2 linked regions of the Homo sapiens genome follow. The protein of the gene in region 1 interacts with the protein of each later gene in a pairwise test. Each region holds a gene or a part of one and is shown on either strand. Other genes may lie near its edges.

Region 1 (7,695 bases):
TGTTGTGGCCCTCCTGTAGAGCCAGAGGATGCTGGAGAAGGAAGCCAGGGGGCCATATGGGGAAGGGCCCTGCAGGCAGGAGCCATAGTACCTGCAAAGGCCCTGAGGCAGCAGCACTCCTGGCCAGGCCAGCATGGCTGGGGCAGACCATGAAGGGGAAGAGGGACTAGTGGCTCCCCCCATTTTCAATGTATGATTTTTTTCATTTTTTTTTATTTATTTATTTTTATTTTTATTTTTATTTTTATTTGTTTTTGAGACAGAGTCTCGCATTTTCACCCAGGCTGGAGTGCAGTGGCGCCATCTCAGCTCACTGCAAGCTCCGCCTCCCGGGTTCACGCCATTCTCCTGCCTCAACCTCCCGAGTAGCTGGGACTCCAGGTGCCCGCCACCACGCCCGGCTAATTTTTTGTATTTTTAGTAGAAACAGGGTTTTACCGTGTTAGCCAGGATGGTCTCTATCTCCTGACCTCGTGATCCGCCCGCCTCGGGCTCCCAAAGTTCTAGGATTACAGGCGTGAGCCACGGCGCCCGGACTTATTTTTTATTATTTTATTTTTTTGAAGTCAGAGTCTTGCTCTGTCGCCCAGGCTGGAGTGCAACGCTGTGATCTCGGCTCACTGTGACCTCTGCCGCCCTGGCTCAAGCAGTTCTCTTGCCTCAGCCTCCTGAGTAGCTGGGGTTACAGGCTTGAACCACTACACCCAGCTAATTTTTGTATTTTTAGTAGAAATGGAGTTTCTCCATGTTGACCAGCCTGATCTTGAACTCCTGACCTCAAGTGATGCACTCGGCTTGGCCTCTCGAAGTGCTGGGATGACAGGTGTGAACCTCAGCACCTGGCCTCATTTTCATTTTTTATTTTATTTTATTTTATTTTTAGACCAAGTCTCACTTTGTCGCCCTGGCTGAAGTGCAGTGGCACAATCTCGACTCACTTCAACGTCTGCCTCCTGGGTTCAAGTGAGTCTCCTGCCTCAGCCTCCAGAGTAGCTGGGATTACAGGCATCTGCCACCATGCCCAGATAATTTTTGTATTTTTAGTAGAGATGGGGTTTCATCGGCCAGGCACGGTGGCTCACGCCTGTAATCCCAGCATTTTGGGAGGCCAAGGCGAGTGGATCACGAGGTCAGGAGTTCAAGACCAGCCTGGCCAAGATGGTGAAACCCCATCTCTACTAAGAATACAAAAATTAGCTGGATGTGGTGATAGGCGCCTATAATCCCAGTTACTCGGGAGGCTGAAGCAGAGAATTGCTTGAACCCGGGAGACGGAGGTTGCAGTGAGCCAAGATCACCCCCCTGCACTTCAACCTGGGCAACAGTGAGAGACAACATTTCAAAAAAGAAACAACAACGTAAAAAAGATGGGGTTTCACCACGTTGGCCAGGCCGGTCTTTAACTCCTGACTTCAAGTGATCCTCCAGCCTCAGCCTCCAAAGTGCTGAGATTACAGGCGTGAGCCACCATGCCCAGCCCTCATTTTTATTTTTTAGAGTCAGCATCTCCCTCTGTCATCCAGGCTGGAGTGCAGTGGTGCAATCACACCTCACTGCAGCCTTGAACTCCTGGCCTCAAAGAATCCTCCCACCTTGGCCTCCCAAAATGCTGGGGTTCAGACATGAGCCACAGCACCCACTATTTTCTGGGACAATTGGGACAGAGGCTCGATCACAAAGGGTCTCTGGGGAGGAGGAAGGGATGGGTGTCCTTCTGAGACATTTGAGTGTTTACAGCGTGCGTTTACCTTTCACCAGGTGGCCTTGGATTGGTGGGCCACCCTGCGGGCTTATCCTCCTCCCCTTGGATGGTGTCTCCCTGTGTCCCTGTGGGGGCTGTCGTTTACAAGTGGAGCTGGGCTTTCTGGTGCGGTCCAGCCCTGGTCCTGCCTAGCTCACAGTGGGAAGGGGCTGCAGGGAAGATGGGAGGGGGGAAGGAGGCTGGGGACAGGCCTCTTCTGGCCCTGGTGCTCAGAGAATTCACAAGGACCTAGGAAGAAGCCTGGACTTGTTTTGGCCTTTGGACCTCAGGAGAACCTCAGCGGAGGCTGGGAGCCTCGAGGGGGACAGCAGAGGCAGGGGAACGCTGGGGCAGCTCTTGACAGCCCCAGGGAGACCCAGGCAGCTGAGTCCTGAGCAGGGGCGCCAGAGGTCCAACAACACCGGAAAATCAGAAAATGAGGCAAAGCAGCCAGGTGCGGTGGTTCACGCCTGTAATCCCAGCACTTTGGGAGGCCGAGGCTGGCAGATCACTTGAGGTCAGGAGTTCGAGACCAGCCTGGCCAACATAGCGAAACCCCATCTCTACTAAAAATACAAAAATTAGCCGGGTGCAGTGGCGGGTGCCTGTTAGCTCAGCTACTCGGGAGGCTGAGGCAGAAGAATAGCTTGAATCTGAGAGGTGGAGGTTGCAGTGAGCCGAGATCGCGCCACTGCACTCCAACATGGGTGACAGAATAAGACTCTGTCTCAAAACAACAACAACCAAAAAAAAAAAGAGGAAAGAAAATGAGGCAAAGAAACCCTGGGCTATCTCTAAGTCTCTAGTCTTTTGAGCCTGATTCCTTCCCTGGCAGCTGTGTCCTGAATTTGAGGAATGAGCCCCTGGGGGCAGGATTGGCCCAGGAGCCTCAGGCTTATCTCAGAACAGTGGAGCTAAGATGAGAGTCCCTGGGACGGAGCGGGGGCTGCGGTTGCCTGCAGGCTGGAGGAGCATTTTGAGCTGGAAAAGGCACGAAAGCTGGGGGGAAGGCACATATGAGAGAAGGCCTGAAAAGCAAGGCTTCCCACCAATTCACACTCACACTTCCAGGCTGGGCCCCTTTGGTGTCTGCAGCCCTTTCTGCCCCTGTCCCTGTCACTTCCTTAGAAAGGCCTGCCCTGACCACGCTCTGAGATTCTCCAGTAACCTTCTTCCATTTTCTTTTCTTTACTTTTTTTTTTTTTGAGGCAGAGTCTTGCTCTGTCGCCCAGGCTGGAGTGCAGTGGCGTGGAGTAGCTGAGATTACAGGTGCGCGCCACAACAGCCGGCTAATTTTTGTATTTTTAGTAGAGATGGGGTTTCACCATGTTGGCCAGGGTGGCCTAATTTTTGTATTTTTAGTAGAGACAGGATTTCACCATGTTGGCCAGGCTGAACTCCTAACTTCAGGTGATCTGCCTGCCTCGTTCTCCCAAAGTGCTGAGATTACAGGCGTGAGCCACTAGGCCCTGCCATAATGCAATTTTTTTTTTTTTTGAGACGGAGTCTCGCTCTGTCGCCCAGTCTGGAGTGCAGTGGCGCGGTCTCAGCTCACTGCAAGCTCTGCCTCCTGGGTTCACGCCGTTCTCCTGCCTCAGCCTCCCGAGTAGCTGGGACTACAGGCGCCCGCCACCACGCCCGGCTATCTTTTTGTATTTTTAGTAGAGATGAGGTTTCACCGTGTTAGCCAGGATGGTCTTGATCTCCTAACCTCATGATCTGCCCGACTCGGCCTCCCAAAGTGCTGGGATTATAGGCGTGAGCCACCGCGCCCAGCCCATAATGAAATTTTTTTAAGAGACAGGATCTTGCTCTCTCGCCCAGGCTGGAATGCAGTGGAGTGATCATAGTTTTATTTATTTATTTATTTATTTATTTATTTATTTATTTATTTATCTGAGACAGTCTTCTTGCTCTGTCACTTGGGCTGGAGCACAGTGGCCCGATCTTGGCTCACTGCAACCTTCGCCTCCCGGGTTCAAGCGATTCTCCTGCCTCAGCCTCCGGAGTAGCTGGGACTACAGGCGCGTGCCACCATGCCCGGCTAATATTTGTATTTTTAGTAGAGACAGGGTTTCACCACGTTGGTCAGGCTTGGTCTCAAACTCCTGACTTCAGGTGATCTACCTGTTTCAGTCTCCCAAAGTGCTGGGATTACAGGCATGAGCCACCGTGCCCGGCCTAATGTAATATTTTAAAAACTAATGCAAAAGAATTTCTGATGAGCAATATATAAAGACTTTAAATAAGCTGGTCATGGTGGCTTGTGCCTATAGTCCTAGCTACTCAGGAGGCTGAAGTAGGAGGTTCACTTGATCCTGGGAGGTCGAGGCTGCAGTGAGCTATGATGGCACCAGCCTGGGTGACAGAGTAGACTCTATGTTAAAAAAAAGAGGCCAGGTGCGGTGGCTGATGCCTGTAATCCCAACACTTTGGGAGGCTGAGGCAGGAGGATTCTGGGGTCAGGAGTTCGAGGCCACACTGGCCAACATGGGGAAACCCCGTCTCTACTGAAAACACAAAAATTAGCTGGGCATGGTGGTGGGCGCCGGTAATCCCAGCTACTCAGGAGGCTGAGGCAGGAGAATCGCTTGATCCCAGGAGGCAGAAGTTGCAGTGAGCTGAGATCGCGCCATTGTACTCCAGCCTGGGCGACAGAGCGCGACTCCATCTCATAAAGAAAAATATTTTAAAACATTTCTAAATGTTGATGTCTGAGTTTTTTTTGGCGTCCCTGTAAATTTTGTTTTCCAGGCGAGAACTTTACTGGCCTCAACCTATTCCGGGTCCCCAAGTGAATGAAACCTAAGTTTGGCCCCGCCCACAGAGCAGCAGGCCACGCCCCTCGACATATCAGCCCCGCCCCCAGGACGCTAGTCGCGCGGTCGCTCTGTGCCTGCAGACCCCCGCCCCGCGCGCTCCTCGCGTCACTTCCGGGGCGGTGGTGAGAACGAGGCTCACTTCCGTCCGTGGGGGGAGCTGCGGCGGTGGCGGTGCAGGAGGCCGGGCAGGGGTGCGGAGGGACCGACGGACGCACGGGCGGGCGGCCGGGAGCCATGGAGCGCGGCCCTGGGGCCCGGGGGCGCGGGCCGGGGTGGTGAGTGCCGGGCAGGGGCGGGGGCGGGCGCGGCCGCGCGGGGTCCCGGGCCGGGCCTCGAGGGCCTGACAGCCCGGTTGGACGTCCCCGAGACCCCTGCAGTCCCAGGGCTTCCGCGGGTCCTGCCCGAGGAGCCCAGAGCAGGGGCGCGGACCGCGGATGAGCGTCTGTGATTGGGAAAGCCCTGTCCCCATCCATTCAGCCCTCCGGCGTGGGTTGCGCTCCCACCCTCCTGCGGACGCGGCCCTTGCCTTCGGGGAGCACCCGTCCGAGCCGCGGATTCCGCTCTTTTGCCCCGAAACTGCCCCCAGTCCGACAAACGCTTCGGCCTCTCGCCCCCCAAGGCAGCTCCCAGGGGCCCTCCCGAGCCCTGCTTCCCAACCAGCTCCCAGTCGCTGTTTCCCTTGTCAGGCTTCTTCCTGCCACCCTGACTCCTGGGCGGGCTTCCCGGCCTCCGCTCGCGTCCGTTCTCCGGGATGCAGCCCTTCTCCTATGTTGTCCATCGCTTGCTCGGGACTTCTTCGCGGCCCCGCCATTTCTCCCAGGATGAAGTGCAAACTCTCGGGGGCGCGACCTCACCCGTCCCAGGCTCTCTCTTAGGACCCTTCTGCTCACTTCTTCCTCCCAGGGTCTGCTCTAGCCAGGAGCCTGCTCTGTCACCTCGGATTTTGCTCCTGCTTGTCCCTCTGTCCCATCCCCCTGTCACCTGGCCCGTTTGTCTGCCCTCTGATATGGCCGCGCCTCCCCCCAGGCGGGTTTCCCACCCTGACTGGTTGAGTGAGGTGCAGTCACCGTCTCCCATATGTAGGTCATCTTCCAGTATTTTGGCTGCTCGGTTGCTTGCTGGTCCTCAGAACACCTCTAGCTTGCAGAGGGTTGCCCAGTTAAGTGCGTGGGAACGGAATTGGTGGGATTCAGGGTGTCAAGGGTGTGTGCCCAGTGAGTGAGGCGTCTGGGTTTGCACTCCCCAGTCCACGCCCATTAGTGACACTAGGGAGGTTCCAGGTACCTGTGGCTGGAGAGGAGAGGAGACTAGACTTTCCCTTCCCTGTCAAAGCTGGCGGACCTTGGGGATTCTTTTCCTCCTGTGCTTCCTCCTTAATTCTGTGCTGCCTACCACCTGCCCATTCCTTTAGTGAGTGGCAGGTCATGGTCCTGCTCTCATAGAGTTTCTGGTTTGGAGGTGGGGGGAGATCTGGCCAAACGTGTGAAAAATACAAGCTGTGGAAAGAGCGTGTAAGGGGTCCTGTCCCAGCTTTGAGGACTCTGAGAGCGTTGGCAGTGAGGTGCAAAGGGTGGTTGGGTTGGGCAAGGCTGTCTAGTGAGGTTGGGGAAGGGAGTTCCTGGCAGAGGAGCAGAGGCAGGAAGGGGCAATTTGGCTTGTCTTGAGGGAGCCAGGAGTGGCAGGGTGTGAGATGAGTGAGTCTGGAGAGGTCGGCCTGAGCCGGAATGCGGACCTGGCAGGCTGTGGGGAGGGCTTTGATCTCTATCCAGGGAATAATGGGAGGCCCCCAGGACACCCCAAGAGGGAAGCGGCTCCATTGCATTTGTGTCGTGAAAGATTGTTTGGCTGCTGGGGGAGAATGTCCTGGAGCAGGTGATCAGCAAGGAGGGAGGCTGTTGCTGTGGCTCTGGTGAAAGGTGATGGAGGCAGGGACCGGGCGGTGGCTGATGGGAGACAGGCAGAGCCACCGGGCTGGTGATGGACCGGCTCAGATCCAGTGGGTGGAAGGAGGTGTCAAGGATAACATCTTTGTTTCTGGCCTGGATAGTGGGGCCCTGGCCACCTCGGTGTGCCCCTTCGTCTCCGGGGTCTCCAGGGGCCTGCTGCTGTCCACTGGGCTCTCAGGACCCAGCTGCATGATGCCACCTAAACTGCAGGGCCCTCCAAGTCCCCAGCACCAGCGGGGCAGCACCGGTAGGGCCTGGACCTCTTTGAGAATATGTTGAAAAGCTGACATCAACCTCGACGCTGTGGATGTTGGGCCTGATCATTCTTTGGGGTGGGTCTGTCCTGGGCACTGCAGGGTGCTAAGCAGCCTCCACCCAGTCCCCAGTGGTGACACCCAAAACTGTGTCCAGACATTGACAGGTGTCTCCAGGAGGGAGACTCGCCTCCATCTGAGAAGCAGAACCAGCCTGACAGTCCACCTCCCGGCTGAAAAGTGCTTGCATGTGCGATTTGCCTTCCGCCTGGGAGTCTGGGGGCACTGGGATGCCATCCTTGCCCCACCCTGGCTTTCAGAGCTCTCTCCTCTCCTCCTCGTGTGCCCATGAGTCCGGCTCACAGGAACGTGGGTCTCACATCAGGTCCTGAGGGAGCAGGTGTGTTTCTGGGCCTGAGGCTGCTCCTTGGTAGTGAGGGTGTCCCCACGAGCCGTGTCTGTGGCGCCTGCAGCTGCCTGCATGTCCATCTGTGTCCACATCTGCCTTTGAGCCTCATCTTCCTGGCCCCACGGTTTTCTCATGCTGTGACCCAAAAGCCAAGCATTCCAGGGTGTTCTGCTGAAATTGAGTTGTGAGCGTGTCTCTCTCCTCGCTCCAGTCTGAAGGAGAAGCGTGGTCGGTAGATAGACGTCTCAGACCTTCGTGTTTTCTTCACGTCTGTCTGTTGGCAGGTCCTTACACTATTGTGGTTGCTTTAGCAACTTAGCTGTTGTCGACTTAATGTGTTTCATGACGTTCTGCAGCAAGGAAGAAGGTCCGAGTTTCCACTCTCAATCAGGCACCTTCGTTCCCCTCCCCCCTCACTTGACTTCCTGTGGGGTGTGTGGTGTCTGCACTTATAGATGAGAATGCTGAGGCCTCAGGAGGGCAAGGGACTCGCCCACGGTCACGGAACCCTAAGTCAGGGGTG
Region 2 (6,966 bases), on another chromosome or scaffold:
TTCATGACAAGGCCCAGTCAGTTATGCAATTACACTCAAGGGTGCATGCACTATTTGTGATGTTGTTTTGTAGGCATTCAATGAGGTAATACAAGACAAGTGCTTGGTTCAATGCTTGGCCCACAGGAAATACTTAATGAATTTTAGCTATTTCTATTACTATTATTTGCCTACATATAGGAATCCTCTTTTAGCCAAAAGGCTAGGTAGTGAAAGATTTGCTCATAATCTTGGATATAATTACCATATCATTCTTCACAGTATCTGAAGAGGCAGACTTCAGATAATAGCATTATCATTATTGAAATCTGGGAAAACACAGACACTAAAATATTTGCAGGCATGTTTCAATTACTCAAGTAGGTTAGAAGCAGAAAAACATATTCTTTATTTCCTGTATTTTCAACCCCAGGTTTAAATACGTCACTTTTACATGTTTTTAGTTTTTCAAATAACTAACTATAAAAAGGAAAACTGTTTTATTAAATAAAATATACAAAAGTAAACCAGACCACTCTAGAATCTGAGCAAAGGAAGTTTTGTGGGCTTCTCCTGGATACTTCTCCCCTTCCCCATCAACAGACAAGCTAGAAAAGGAGAAATAGGTTTGTTTGAACACTTCTCTTTTACAAAAATAAATAAAGAGGAACAAATATGTGGGCCACGTTTTAAAAATTGTATGTGTTTTTCCATTACTTATCGAGCAACTGCTTGCTAAGCAAGGCACTAAGTGACTTAAATGCACAAACTCATTGAATCCTTTCAACTCTGAGTAGAATGATTTTTATCATCACCATTTTACAGATAAGGAAACTAAGGCAGCTGCCTAAAGTCCCAGAGCTTGCAAATAATGGAGTGGAGATTCCTCTAAGAGGTCATGATTCCAGGATGAAACTCTTTAATCACTATCTTGTATAGTCACATTACTACACAGGTGGGCAAATAAAGAAAACAAGGACAGAAATGGACTATGATTTAACGTTGGATTTTTAACAGCAGTTAGGAATTTGCTAATTCAATACCACAGGATTAAAAGTTTTCCAACTAGGAAGCCCCAGAGAAAATGAAGACATATTTATTAAATTATAATAGGCCTTTAAATGACTGTGTGGACATGATCATACAACTTGACACGTTTTTTCACGGGTATTTCTCATGCAGTCCAGTCTGGATCCACAACATGCTCCTGAAGGGTGTGTGGCATGAAGAAGTCACTGCCCTGGAGAGCAGGGAACTGAGAGGTAACAATCCATGAGGGGTTTTCACTTTGCCCTTGCCCTTTTCCTCCTCCCTATTCCAGTAGACACTTGGCTCCGTGCTCATTTCCTCAGAAGAGGATGAAGCAGGGTGAAAAATGAAAGTTGCCTGACAGCTACTTCTCTTTCTGCTGTTAGTGCCCAAACCCAACCACAGAAAAGGAAAGAATTCTTGAGCATAGATTCTTGAAGGGAAACGATTTTCCCTTCAGGTGAACTGCTAATAATATTAACAATTGCTCTCACTCATGGATCCCTAACTATGCATTAGGCACACTTTGAAGCACATATCTGTGTACTCATTTAATTCTGTAAAAGCTTATGAGAGAGTTATTACTAATATTGTTAGAATGCTCCATGAAGATTTGTTTTTGTCTGATTTTATTTAGTGCTATATCTCTATTTATTTACTTATTTATTTTTGAGATGGAGTCTCGCTCTGTCGCCAGGCTGGAGTGTAGTGGCACGCTCTCGGCTCACTGCAATCTCTGCCTCCCGGGTTCAAGCGATTCTCCTGCCTCACACTCCCGCGTAGCTGGGATTACAGGCGTGGGCCACCACACCTGGCTGATTTTTGTATTTTTAGTAGAGATGGAGTTTCACCATGTTGACCAGGATGGTCTCCATCTCCTGACCTTGTGATCCACCTGCCTCGGCCTCCCAAAGTGCTGGGATTACAGGAGTGAGCCACCGCGCCCAGCCTTATTTACTGCTATATCTCTAGCGTTCAGAACAATACCTGGCAAAGATTAGGAACAAATAAATATTTATTGTAGAATCAATCTCCATCTAAAGGTGAAGGAGCTCAGGCACAGAGAGATTAAGTTACCTGCCCAAAGGCCCACAGCTGGTAGAAGACTAGGAGAGTTAGAGCACCCCCACCTGGGCTGGGAGAAGAGACAAGAGGATGGGAAAGCTGTGCTTCCCGAGTAGAGGAGATCTGGGACCCTCTCCTGGGACCCTCTTGTGCCTCCAGGGAGGTAGAAAGACCACAGAGAAGAAGTGGCTCTGTTGGGTACTGGGCAGGTGGAATCTCAGGCAGCGTTGTGATGAAACCACCACACTGGGGCAAGAAGGTAGCAAAATGAGAATGCTACAGGAGCTGCAGAGAGCTCCTGGCGTGGAGGCCATGCACACAAGGACAATGGATGCCTCTAGAGCAGCCTCTGTTGATCGGTGACCAAGGATCAAGTGGCTGCTCCTTCCCCAATCCTTGATGTGTTACTCTGCTTTCCTCCAGCCAAAACAACTGGTCGTAAAAGATAAAATTGTAATACAAAATGAGAAAAGTGTTATTTTTTGTATACTTGATTTTTTTTTAACTGAAGCAGTCTCGTATTATATATAGGCAGCATTATGTAAGGAAAAATATTAAATGTGTCATCAGAAGGCCTAGATTTTAATCCTAGCTTGTCCCAACAAAAATTCGCAGGCAATTTACCTAATTTCCCTATGTCTCAGTTTCCTCATTTATAAAAATAGGGATTAAAAATCATTGAGGTGAGGATAAAAAGATTTTTTTGAAAATATAAGTTAAAGCTGTCAAAGATAATAAATGCATTGTGTTAATTTTGTATAGCTCCCACTCCCATCCCATTTGCACTTGATTTTGACACACATGTATCCTTTTTTGGTGGGTAAAGGGCTACACTTGCGTCTTCTCTTTTTACATACTAGTATTTACATTTATTTTCATTTCTGACGTTTATACTAAGTGGATGTAAACATATTTTTCAAAATTAAAAGCACTTTAGAAATAAGAAATATTAAATGATTGATATGTTGCTATTGTTGCCTGTGGGAGTAATTTTCTGGAAGTTGAAAGCCAGCTGGTCATTGAAATGTTTCATGGATAATCCTCAGGCTCAGTAAGGCCCAGGCAGGCATTTTATTGGATCTTTTCACTGAGCTGTCCTAATATTATAGATAAAAATAATTCCTGCACTAAGAAGTGAAACAATAAATTTCTAAAATGTCAGGCATTTGTTACTAAATTGTAAAAGGATCACAAACAAGATGAATTGGAAACTTCTACACCAGGTTTACTTTAAACACTTTGGCTTTTCTGAGAAATGAGAGTAAATGAAATAAACCAGCAACAATGCAAATTTACAGTCCTTGCAAAAACGTGAACTATAAATTAGGGTTATTCTATCATCAGATGTATATTAGTGGTCATGACATGCCTGGCACTCCTCTTAGAACTGAGGAGACAATAGTGAAAAAGACAGTGAAGTGCCTGCCTTTACAGAGCTTACATTCCACTGGGAGAAACCAAAAACAAACAAGTTAAATACACCACATTGTTAGACACTGCCTCGAAGGAACATACAGCAGGTACAGGAGAGACTGTTTCTAAAATAGAGAAGCAAGTCATGTGCACATCTGCAAAGATGATTTCATTACATTCAGGTTTTCTTATTCTCCAGGAGCCTATGGTGTAAAACTGAAAATAAGTGAACATGTAACAGTGGGCATACATATGCAGCTATAACTTTGACTTTACCTTGTATACAAATGTGTTGGTTTATTTATACCCAGATATCCTGTATAACCAGCAGTCTTCGCAGGCTTGAACTGCCTGGCATGCATGTTTTATCTAAGAAAAGAAGGAAGAGCGTTAGGTAGAAGGAAGTTGCCTGTCCTCTCACTGGCTCGTGATTATCACTTACTCGTCATATAAACCCAAGGCACAGTCACATACCCAGGGATACAAGACACTGCAGACTCCCGAGAGACATAACACAGGTAAGTCATATTACTGAACTCCACATAGGTAATAAATGAGATATGCTTTACTCTTTACTTCAGAGTTTTTATTATTCTCATATCCTGTTTGTGACTAACTGTCTTGTGAGCTATTTTCATGATGGTGCTCACTCTGACCTTGTCTTACCCAGAACCTCTCCATATATGCGAATATGTGAAACTCAAATAGTCATTTTTAAGGAAATATAGGTACAGGAGATTTAAGAAGATCTCTTCAAGTGGATTTTAACATAGAAAATATAATCAATGCTAGAGGAAAAATCCTGTCTTAATCAGGGTTTGTTACTACTTCCAGAATTTTCCCAAGTGATTCTTCAATAACTTGGATTGATGGAGTAGAGAATATTATCTCATGGCTGTTCAATTTCTTTCCTTTGCTTTAAAGTTTAAGACTTTTACTGGTAATATTTTATATTATTTTAAGGCACATTTTGTTGAAGCATCTCCATGTTTTGATAAGAATTGCAACCTATCATCTTTTGGCTTCAGAGATGGTTTAAGGGATTTACCCCAGGCCAGGAATTTCAACTCACAGCTCCCAAAGGATATTTCAGTTATTCCTCTTGCTTTGGCTTTAATGTGAAACAGTCACTTAAAATGACATTTAGTTGATATTTGATAAAAAAAAAAAAAATAGAGCTTTCAGCTTGCTAATTCAAAGTTAAACATCCAGTGCTTGATTGAAATCAATATCTTACTCAGTCAACAACAATTCTTCTATTTCTCTATTGTCCTATAATTTAACTCCAACCTGGCAACTTTTCCAGAATTGAACTTGAAATGCCCAGGGACACTGTGAAATGAGGGAAATTAACATTCTTTACCATCAAATGTTAGGGGTAATAAAAAGCTGTTTTAATGTCAGTATATGCAAGAAGTTCCCCTGTGAACAATAGTATCTCACATGATTGCTGTCTGAATCCAATTTTTACATTTCAGAACACCAGGGTCTATATAATAGGAGTGTAAACATGCTCTAGGCCATTACATTTTGTATAAGTTTATTACTGGGCAAGTTAAGATCTGCATCTTAAACTCAAAGAAGAGCTATAGCAAATTCACAAGTAATCTTTGTTTTTATATCTCTAACTCAGATTATTGCGCAATTACTAAGCATGTAAAAAACTGTGTCTGGAATGCCCAAATATGTTTGAATTCTTGATGTGTCGTATTTAAGAGTAAGAGCTTACGTTGGCTAACATTTTGTATTGAACTGTAGAATGGTCAATACTTAATTCCTCATTTGTAAGTTTTCTATCTAACAAAATTATTCCAAAAGTTCTCTTTTTTGAACTAAAAATATTTCGGCTGAAGTCTTTATTAAGATGTTTAGTATAGGCATTGGATATTGATTAGCCTGTGTTGTCAGAGAGTTGAAATTGGATTGTTGTCATCTTTCTGGCACAGAGACTAGAATTTTTGAGACTATTTTTTACTGTGCTTTTACAGCAGTATACGGAATAATATATTGTTAAATTGTTTTATTATAAAAGTTTGTAATTTTTTCAATGATTATGTTAAAATTGCCTCTGGGATTGAATTAATCAGATGAAATAAATCAGCATTGTATTAGTTAGTTTTCACGCTGCTGATTAAGACATACCTGAGACTGGGTAATTTATAAAGAAAAAAAAGTTTGGCCGGGCGAGGTGGCTCAGCCTGTAATCCCAACATTTTGGGAGGCCGAGGCTGGCGGATCACCTGAGGTTAGGAGGTCCTGGCCAACATGGCGAAACCACGTCTCTACTAAAAATACAAAAATTAGCTGGGCGCGGTGGTGGGCGTCTGTAATCCCAGCTACTGGGGAGGCTGAGGCAGGGAGAATCGCTTGAACCCGGGAGGCGGATGCTGCAGTGAGCCGAGATTGCGCCACTGCACTCCAGCCTGGGCGACAGAGCAAGACTCCGTCTCAAAAAAAAAAAAAGAAAGAAAAAAAAAAAGAAAAAAATTTGCCGGGCGTGGTGGTTGGTGCCTGTAATCCCAGCTACTCTGGTGGCTGCGGCAGGAGAATCGCTTGAACCCGGGAGGCAGAGGCTGCGGTGAGACGAGATCACGCCATTGCACTCCAGGCTGGGCGACAAGAGTAAAACTCCGTCTCAAAAAAAAAAAAAAAAAAAAAAAAAGGGAGGGGGGCGGGCCGGGCCCGGTGGCTCACCCCTGTAAACCCAGCACTTTGGGAGGCTGAGGCAGGCGGATCACGAGGTCAGGAGATCGAGACCACCCCGGCTAACACGGGGAAACCCCATCTCTATTAAATATACAAAAAAATTAGCTGGGCGTGGTGGCGCGTGCCTGTAGTCCCAGCTACTCGGGAAGCTGAGGCAGGAGAATGGCGTGAACCCGGGAGGTGGAGCTTGCAGTGAGTGGAGATCACGCCACTGCACTCCAGCCTGGGCGACAGAGAGAGACTCCGTCTCAAAAAAAAAAAAAAAAAAAAAAAAAAAAAAAAAAAAAAAAAAAAAGAGAAAGAAAGAAAGAAAGAAAGAAAGAAAGAAAGAAAGAAAGAAAGAAAGGTTTAGACCAGGCACAGTGGCTCACACCTGTAATCCCAGCACTTTGGGAGGCCCAGGCAGGCGGATCACAAGGTCAGATGATCGAGACCATCCTGGCCAACATGGTGAAACCCCATCTCCACTAAAAAATAAAATACAAAAATTAGCTGTATGTGGTGGCGCACACCTATAATCCTAGCTACTTGGGAGACTGAGGCAGGATAATCGCTTGAACCCAGGAGGCGGAGATTTCAGTGAGCCCAGATTGCGCCACTGCACTGCAGTTCCACATGGCTGGGGAGACCTCACCATCATAGCGGAAGAGGAAGGGATGTCTTACATGGCAGCAGGCAAGACAGAACCAGAGCCAAGTTAAAGGGGAAATCCCTTATAAAATGATCAGATCTCGTGAGACTTATTTACTACCATGAAGTCAGTATGGGGGAAAC

The links. The genes of interacting proteins can lie anywhere in the genome.
Region 2: the proteins of ABHD17A (region 1) and HPGDS interact in binary tests that used the Homo sapiens proteins (3 or more experiments, as listed by UniProt).

What each region holds. Positions count from the first base shown.
Region 1 is NC_000019.10:1,882,495-1,890,189, reverse strand, and holds the start of ABHD17A (alpha/beta hydrolase domain-containing protein 17A), read left to right. Parts: upstream 1-4,693; 5' UTR 4,694-4,838; intron 4,839-7,623; exon of another isoform or gene 7,624-7,695. UniProt on the Homo sapiens protein: Hydrolyzes fatty acids from S-acylated cysteine residues in proteins. Has depalmitoylating activity towards NRAS. Has depalmitoylating activity towards DLG4/PSD95. May have depalmitoylating activity towards MAP6.
Region 2 is NC_000004.12:94,339,833-94,346,798, reverse strand, and holds the start of HPGDS (hematopoietic prostaglandin D synthase), read left to right. Parts: upstream 1-3,962; 5' UTR 3,963-4,004; intron 4,005-6,966. UniProt on the Homo sapiens protein: Bifunctional enzyme which catalyzes both the conversion of PGH2 to PGD2, a prostaglandin involved in smooth muscle contraction/relaxation and a potent inhibitor of platelet aggregation, and the conjugation of glutathione with a wide range of aryl halides and organic isothiocyanates.